2 separate regions of the Homo sapiens genome follow, and region 2 is linked to region 1. The links come from fine-mapping of genetic effects on gene expression. A gene starts in region 1. The other region holds a variant in brackets. All regions are shown on one strand. Distances are from middle to middle. Region 1 holds the start of DYNC2I1 (dynein 2 intermediate chain 1). Region 2 overlaps DYNC2I1 (dynein 2 intermediate chain 1).

Region 1 (4,535 bases):
AATCCCAGCACTTTGGGAGGCCAAGGCGGGCGGATCACCGGAGGTCAGGAGTTCGAGACCAGCCTGACCAACATGGAGAAACCCCATCCCTACTAAAAATACAAAAATTAGCCAGGCATAGTGGCACCTGCCTGTAATCCCAGCTACTCGGGAGGCTGAGGCAGGAGAATCGCTGGAACCCAGGAGTTGGAGGTTGCGGTGAGTAGAGATCGTGCCACTGTACTCCAGCCTGGGCGACAAGGGGAATTATCTTTAAAAAAAAAAAAAAAAAAAGGCCGGGTGCAGTGGCTCACGAAGTCAGGAGATCAAGACCATCCTGGCCAACACGGTGAAACCTCATCTCTACTAAAAATACAAAAATCAGCTGGGCTTGGTGGCGGACATCTGTAATCCCACCTACTCGGGAGACTGAGGCAGGAGAATCTCTTGAACCCTGGAGTCGGAGGTTGCAGTAAGCCAAGTTCGTGCCATTGCATTCCAGCCTGGTGACAGAGTGAGACTCCATCTCAAAAAAAAAAAAAAAACAAAAACCTAAGGTTTATATAACATAAAATACAAATTAAGGAGTATTATTCAACACATAAAGGTAAGTGATGGGGAAAAAATAATAGGAGTGAAGGTAGAAGAAAATGTATGCAAATTAAATTCCTCATCTTTCAGTGGGGAATCAATAGATAAGAATAATACAGTAATATCTAACATTTATTGAGTGTTAATGAAAGCAGGCACTGGTCTATGCACTTTTACACATAATATCTCACTTAACCTTCTTAAACACCCTATAATGTTGCTATTATTATTGTGCCCATTGAATGAATTAGGAAACAAGACATGTTAAGTGAGTTTGCCAAGGTCATACAAGTAAATACAAAATCCTGAATTCAAACTCAAGCACCCAGGCTGCACTCTCTCAACCTCTTAAACTGTGACAAGTCATATTTAAACTTAAGTCAGCTAAAATTTAATAAACTTTTAAATATGTCTCCTCAGCCACCCCGGCCCCGCAGCAGGGGCCGAGGCCGCCTCCAGGCCGGGCGCGAGGAGACGGGCCGCGGCGGCGACCCCAGGCCTGAGGCTGCACAGACCGCCTCTCCCGACCGCCGGGAGCCCGGCGTCCTGCCATCCCTCGCGCCGACGGCCAGCCGCGCCTCCGTTTCCCTTCCTGCCTCGGAGGCACCGCGGCTCCTCCGGGAAGCCCCGGCCCGGCCGAGAGAACCGCTGCGCAAAGGGAGGGCGGCGGCGGCGCTGCTAGCGGCGCCCGAAGGAGTCCGCGAAGCTCGACCACCCCTCGCCCAGACCCAGCGCCGCACCGACCTTCCCGGGCTCCATCGCTTCCCGCAGGCCCGGGCGGCCGCGGTGTCCTCGGCCCCGGCCAGGCGCGGTCCACCCCGAAGAGGCCACCTGTGCCCCGCACCCTTCGGGAGGCGCGTCCCAGCGCCTAGCAACCGACAAGCAGGAGCAGCAGAGGGCCCAGAAGCACTGCCCAGCGTGCCCTGCGGCCTCTCCCAGTGCGCCTGCGCATCCCCGGCATTTTTAGCACCTGGCAGGCAGGAGCAGGGGAAGGCCGAGTGGTCGCTGCTCGGCGTGCCCGCGGCCCCTCCCAATGCGCCTGCGCTTCCCCGGCTCCTAGCAACCGCCAGGCAGGAGCAGCAGAGGACCGAGCGGTCGTTGGTCTCCCCAAGGGGTAGGTGCAGTACCCTGACTTGGGGTGCAGGGGCTCTTGACTCGCCCCAACCCGCCCCGGGTTCCCACGGGACCGGACTGACAGTCGGGGAAGATAGAAAGGGAGAGCAGATATTGAAAAGAGCTTTACGTTTGAGGCCGAGCGCGGTGGCTCACCCCTGTAATCCCAGCACTTTGGGAGGCGGAGGCGGGTGGATCATGAGGTCAGGAGATCGAGACCATCCTGGCTAACACGGTGAAACCCCGTCTCTACTAAAAATACAAAAAAAAAAAATAGCTGGGCGCAGTAGCAGGCGCCTGTAGTCCCAGCTACTCGGGAGGCTGAGGCAGAAGGATGGCGTGAACCTGGGAGACGGAGCTTGCAGTGAGCGGAGATCACGCCACTGCACTCCAACCTGGGCGACAGAGCGAGACTCTGTCTCAAAAAAAAAAAAAAAAAAAAGAAAAGAGCTTTACATTTGAATAAGGCTTTGCACTTAACAAATTATATTCCCATATGTCGTCTTTTGATAAAAACAAGCAGTAAGGTAGGCAGGAATCAACGTTGAGAGACTGTTTTTATACAACACGTAAGGGAAAATCAAAAACTCTCAGGACCTCCGAACTCCTTCAGCCAAAGGGAAAGTTAGGGCTGAAAGCCTGAAACCGCCTTTTCAAAATTATGACTGAGGCAGTAAAAGAGGTGTAACTTAACCCACAGCATCTTGCTTCTGACCTCCAAGCTGTGCTTGTTCCTTCCTGGCAGTAGGCTGAACTAACTTTGGGAGAAACTTAGTTTATATTTTATAATTTAAACACAGACGGTAACAGCCCTTTCCCAAAGCAGGCCTTCTTGCCTGGGGACTTGATTGCCTTTGTAGGACTGATGTTAGCCACAAGATTAGAAATTACGTTTTAGGAGTAGTTTCTAATATGCAGCTGGAGGCTACAATATTCTGACCCTCCCTAAACTGCTCCTAAGATCAGTGCTTGAGATATTTTGCAGAACCTGCACTTGATGGATCAGCTGGCACCACCCAGATCAATAAACTGGCTCATCAGATCTTGTGGCCCCTCACCCAGGAACTGATAAGGGCAAGAAGACCGCTTTGACTCCCTATGATTTCATCTCTGACCAATCAGCACTCCTGGCTCACTGGCTTCCCCCCACCCAAGTTATCCTTGAAAACTCTGATCCCTGAATGCTTCAATGCTCAAGGAGATGGATTTGAGTAATAATAAAACTCTAGTCTCCTGCACAGCCAGCTCTGTGTAAATTACTCTTTCTCTATTGCAATTCCCCCATCTCGATAGGCTCTGTCTAGGCAGCGGGCAAGGTGAACCCCTTGGGTGGTTGCAAGCCGAGTCGCCCAACACCCTCTTCCAAATGCACAGCTGTTGCTTTGCAGGCTGCAAGGCTCCTGCCAGCCAGGCCCCCGTGAAGGCAGGGCCGGGCACCTTGGCCCCCACCAGTCTCCCAGGTGTAAATGTTTTGCCAGCCTGGAGACCTTTCAAGATGTGTGTCCTCACTTAAACAAAGACACGCCAATTGTAACTTTAGATCTGCAACTTAAGTCTGAAACTACCTCTGCAAGAATTAGAACTGAGAAAATTATGACAGTGAAAGAGATCTAACCTGACTCCATCTTGCTTCTAACCTCCAAGCTGTCCTTGTCCATTCCTGGTCGTAGAATAGTTTAACTTTGAAAGAAAGATAACAGCCCTTTCCCAAAACAAACCCCCTTCTCTTTTTTTATTATTATTATACTTTAAGTTCTGGGGTACATGTGCAGAACGTGCAGGTTTGTTACATAGGTATACACATGCCACGGTGGTTTGCGACACCCATCAACCCGTCATCTACATTAGGTATTTCTCCTAATGCTATCCCCCAGCCCCCCCCGACAGACCCCCACGTGTGATGTTCCTCTCCCTGTGTCCATGTGTTCTCATTGTTCAACTCCCACTTATGAGTGAGAACATGCGGTGTTTGGTTTTCTGTTCTTGTGATAGTTTGCTGAGAATGATGCAAACCCTCTTCTTGCTGGGGACTAGATGGCCTTTGGAGGACTAACAAATTAGCCATGAGATTAGAAATTATGGTTTAGGAGTCATGCAGCTAAAGGCCACAAGATTCTAAACCTCCTCAATTACTCCTAGGGATAATATCACTATTGTAAAACCTAAGATTGGTGCTTGAGACATTTTTCAGTCCCTTCACTCAATGGGTCGGCTGGTGCAACCCAGATGGATAAACTGGCTCATCTGGTCTTGTGACCCCCACTTAGGAACTGACTCAGCGCAAGAAGACAGCTTGGATTCCCTGATTTCATCTCCAATCCTACCAATCAGCACTCCCCACTTCTCAACGCCCCCCCACCCACTAAATTATCCTTCAAACTCCAATCCTCAAATTTTGGGGGACACTGATTTGAGCAATAATAAAACTCCACTGGGCATGGTGGCTCATGCCTGTAATCCCAGCACTTTGGGAGGCTGAGGCAGGCAGATCACCTGAGGTCGGGAGTTTGAGACCAGCCTGACCAACATGGAGAAAGCCCGTCTCTACTAAAAATACAAAATTAGCTGGGTGTGGTGGTACATGCCTGTAATCCCAGCTACTTGGGGGCTGAGGCAGGAGACTCTCTTGAACCCAGGAGTGGGAGGTTGCAGTGAGCCAAGATCGCGCCACTGCACTCCAGCCTGGGCAACAAGAGCAAAACTCCATCTAAAAAAAAAAAAAAAAACCTCTGGTCTCCCATACAGCCGGCTCTGCGTGAATTAAATTCTTTCTCTATTGCAATTTCCTATCTAGATAAATCATCTCTGTCTGAGCAGCCGGCAAGGAGAACCTGTTGGGCGGTTACAAGTCC
Region 2 (4,000 bases), 45 kb before region 1:
ATTATCCCTCATACTGAACAAAACATGACACTTTATAACTTAAAACAGACAATGTCCTTATTACAGCTAAGAAAGATATTTATAGTTCCCTGATTTTAATGTTTTTGAAGGTAAATTTATATAAACTGCTACCTTTATTTCTCTAAAAATAAATCACACAATACAGAACCATATACAGAAGACCTATCAACTATCATCACGTGCAAACATTTGTGCTGAGAATGTGAAAGTGTATGTATTTTTATAGATACCTATGTATACATCTTTTTATGCACTGCACTTAAATATGAGTTAAATTATAAAATCATTTAATTACATCATATTGGTAAGTATTAGTAGAAGTATAGCAAGCATTTTACAGGTAACAGCTTGACCTAAATCAACCTAGCCAGATATTGAGTATTAGGATTAATAAAAAGAATAAAAAGGACATCAAATTACTATATATAAGCTGATTTTTAAGAATAAATGATTTTTAAGCTAAGGAAAGTTTTAACTTTTATACATACTTCAAAATCATCTTCACAACTGGCTGTATATGCATCAGCTCTAGCATTTTCTAAATCAGTTTCTTCCTTTTCAATTTCCTAGAGGTAAAAATCAAACACAAAACCAAAAAATTCAATCATAAAATTGAATATTGCAAATAGATTGGGAAAACATATATGTTTTCTGACATTCCTTTGATGTTGCTAATTTTAAACTCTAGGTATTTGTAAAACTAATATAATGTTAAATTCCTTTAAGAAATACCCTTGCTAACTTACAGGTAGGACCAAAAAGAGAAAACAGTAAACATCCTTTTTGGGAAACCTCTATAATTCTGGTGGCTAAAAATTTTTTAAGTGTTTTACAAATAAACTTCAAATGTGCAGCAATCCATTTCTTATCCATGAATATATTCCCCGCTGAATGGTGCTCAGCTTATCTACACCATTAAAGACAGTGTAGCTGTAGTGAGCACTGTGGCTCACACCTTTAATCCCAGCACTTTGGGAGGTCAAGGCAGGCAGATTACTTGAACTCAGGAGCTGAAGACCAGCGTGGGCAACATGGCGAAACCGCATCTCTACCAAAAATACAAAAAATTAGCTGGGCATGGTGGTGTGCACCTGTGTTCCCAGCTACTCCAGAGGCTGAGGTGAGAGGACTGCTTGAGCCTGGGAGGCAGACGTTGCAGTGAGCCAAGATCGCGCCACTGCACAATCAAGAAGATATTACAAAGCATACTAGAAAGCAGAAAATACAGTTTGAAGAGACAGAGCAAGCACCAGTTCCAGACATGGCAGGGATGTTGGAATTATCAGAACAGGAACTTAAAACAACTATGAGGACATCCTAAGAGCTCTAATAGACAAAGTTGATAGCAGGCAAGCAGAGAGATGGAAAGTCTAAGAAAGAACCAGAAAGGAAAGTTCGAGGTCAAAAACAACAAAACAACAGAAACAGAAGTGAAGAACAACTTTGATGGGCTCATTAGTAAACTGGACAGAGCTGAAGAAAAGTCTCTGTGCTTGATGATACCTCAATAGAAACCCCCAAAACTGAAAAGCAAAGAGAACAAAAAGCGGGAAGGAAAAAAAAAAAAAAAAAACAGAACAAAATATCCAAGAACTGTGGGACAACTGCAAAAGGTATTCACATGTATAATGGGGATGGCAGAAGAAGAGAGAAAGGAACAGAATACTTGATACAATAATGACTGAGAATTTCTCCAAACTGATGTCAGACACCAAACCACGCATCCAGGAAGCTCATAGAACACCAAGATCAATATCAAAACATCTACACCTAGGCATCTTATATTCAAACTACAGAAAAATCACAGATAAGGACAAAATCCTGAAAGAAGCCAGATGGGGAAAAAACACTTTATCTACTGAGGAACATAGATAAGAATTACAGGCTGGGCGCGGTGGCTCACACCTATAATCCCAGCACTTTGGGAGGCCGAGGCAGGTGGATCATCTGAGGTCAGGAGTTCAAGACCAGCCTGACTAACATGGTGAAACCCCATCTCTACTAAAAACATAAAAATTAGCTGGGCGTGGTGGCACTTGCCTGTAACCCCAGCTACTTGGGAGGCTGAAGCAGGAGAATCACTTGAACCTGGGAGGCAGAGGTTGCAGCGAGCTGAGATCGCACCATTGCACTCCAGCCTGGGCAATGACAGCAAAACTCTGTCTCAAAAAGAAAAAAAAAAAAAAAAGAATTACATTCAGTTTCTCAGATACCATGCAAGCAAGAAGACAGCATA[G/C]AGAAATGTTTAAAGTACTGAGAGAAAAATATTCAGCAGCCCAAAATTACACATATACTCTATAAAATTATGCTTCCAAAGTGAAGGAGAAATAAAGACTTTCAAACAAAATTGAGGGAATTTGTTGCCAGTAGACCTGTCTTGCAAGCAACATAAAAAGAAGTTCTTCAGAAAGAAGGTGTATTAGTCCGTTTTCACACTGCTGATAAAGACATAACCGAGACTGGGAAGAAAAAGAGGTTTCATTGGACTTACAGTTCCACATGGCTGGGGAGGCCTCAGAATCATGGCAGGAGGCAAAAGGCACTTCTTGAACGTGGTGGCAGGAAGAGAAAATGAGGAAGAGGCAAAAGCAGAAACCCCTGATAAACCCATCAGATCTCATGAGATGTATTCACTATCACGAGAATAGCATGGGAAAGACCAGGCCCCATGATTCAATTACCTCCCCCTGGGTCCCTCCCACAACATGTGGGAATTCTGGGAGATAAACTCAAGTTGAGATTTGGGTGGGGACACAGCCAAACCGTTATCAGAAGGAAAATAATATAGGTCAGAAACTTGGGTCTATATAAAAAAAAGAAAAGATGGAAGAAGAAATAAGTAAAGGGAAATAACTCTTCCTTTTCTTTTCCTTAATTGATCTAACAGATAACAGTTTGTTCAGAATAATAGTAGCAAAAATGTATTCAATTACGTATGCTTAGGTATTTATCCGTGTGTGTGTATGTGTGTTTGTGTACACATATGCATAGTTAGCCCTCCTTATCTGTGGGTTCCACATCCATGGATTCAACCAACCACAGACCAAAAATATTTGGAAAAATAAAAATAAAAAATAATACAAATTTTAAAATACAGTATAACAACTATTTACATAGCATTTACATTGTATTAGGTTTTATAAGCAATCTAGAGATGACTTAAAATACATGGGAGAACATGCATAGGTTATATGCAAATCCTATGCCATTTTACTTAAGGAACTTGAGCGTTTGCAGATTTTAGTATCCACAGGGGGTCCAGGAACCAATCCTGTTCCAATACCAAGGGATAACATGCTTATGTCTGCTTATACACAAGTAAAATGAATGACAGCAAGGATACAAGGAATGGGAGTGATACAGTCTTATTCAAAAGTGGACTTGTATTGGTTGTAAATGTATTTAAACCACTTTAAAAAGTTAAAAAAAAAAAACAACCTTTAACTGATATGCTAAGAAAGGAGAGAAAATAGAATCATAAGATGTTCTATTAAAACCACAGAAGGCAAAAAAAGAATGAAAGACAAAAACAGGAACAAATAACAAGGGCAACAAATAAAAAATAGTAACAAATATGGCAGATACTAATCCAATATATCAATAATTACTTTGAACATCAATGATCTAAATGTACCAATCACAAGACAGAGATTGTCAGAGAGGATCAAAAAACAAGATCCATCTACTTATTGTCTTCAGGAAACCCAAATGAAGAAAAATATACCATGCTCACACTAATCAAAAGAAAGCAAAAGTCATTATATTAATTTCTGACGCAGCACACTTCAAAGTAAAGAGAGTCAACATGAATAAAGAAGGGCATTACACAATGATAAAGATGCCAATTTTATGTCTTTAATGAAAGACATAACAATCCTTAATATGTGTGAGGGTCAAATTATTTAAGTCAAAAACTAATAGAAGTGCAAGAAGAAATAGATGAATCCACTATTACAGCTGGAGACTTCAACATCCCTCT

What was found. PIP is the estimated chance that this variant, and not a neighbour inherited with it, causes the effect. A credible set is the group of variants that fine-mapping cannot tell apart.
Region 2: its variant is the best candidate, but not a certain one, in a credible set for the expression of DYNC2I1 in unexposed skin (GTEx, PIP 0.69).

What each region holds. Positions count from the first base shown.
Region 1 is chr7:158,853,530-158,858,064 of GRCh38, reverse strand. DYNC2I1 (dynein 2 intermediate chain 1) reads right to left here and starts at 1,507. Exons shown (of 25, transcript NM_018051.5): 1 at 1,315-1,507. The coding sequence starts at 1,329. It overlaps LOC124901796 (a long non-coding RNA gene), which reads left to right and starts at 1,543. Exons shown (of 2, transcript XR_007060627.1): 1 at 1,543-1,684; 2 at 2,669-2,927. RefSeq lists an enhancer at 90-631 and a silencer at 982-1,451.
Region 2 is chr7:158,898,326-158,902,325 of GRCh38, reverse strand. DYNC2I1 (dynein 2 intermediate chain 1) reads right to left here. Exons shown (of 25, transcript NM_018051.5): 9 at 510-587. Among named protein-coding and RNA genes, the nearest start is that of DYNC2I1, 44 kb to the right of the region's middle. The variant G/C (reference allele first, on the strand shown) is at 2,258.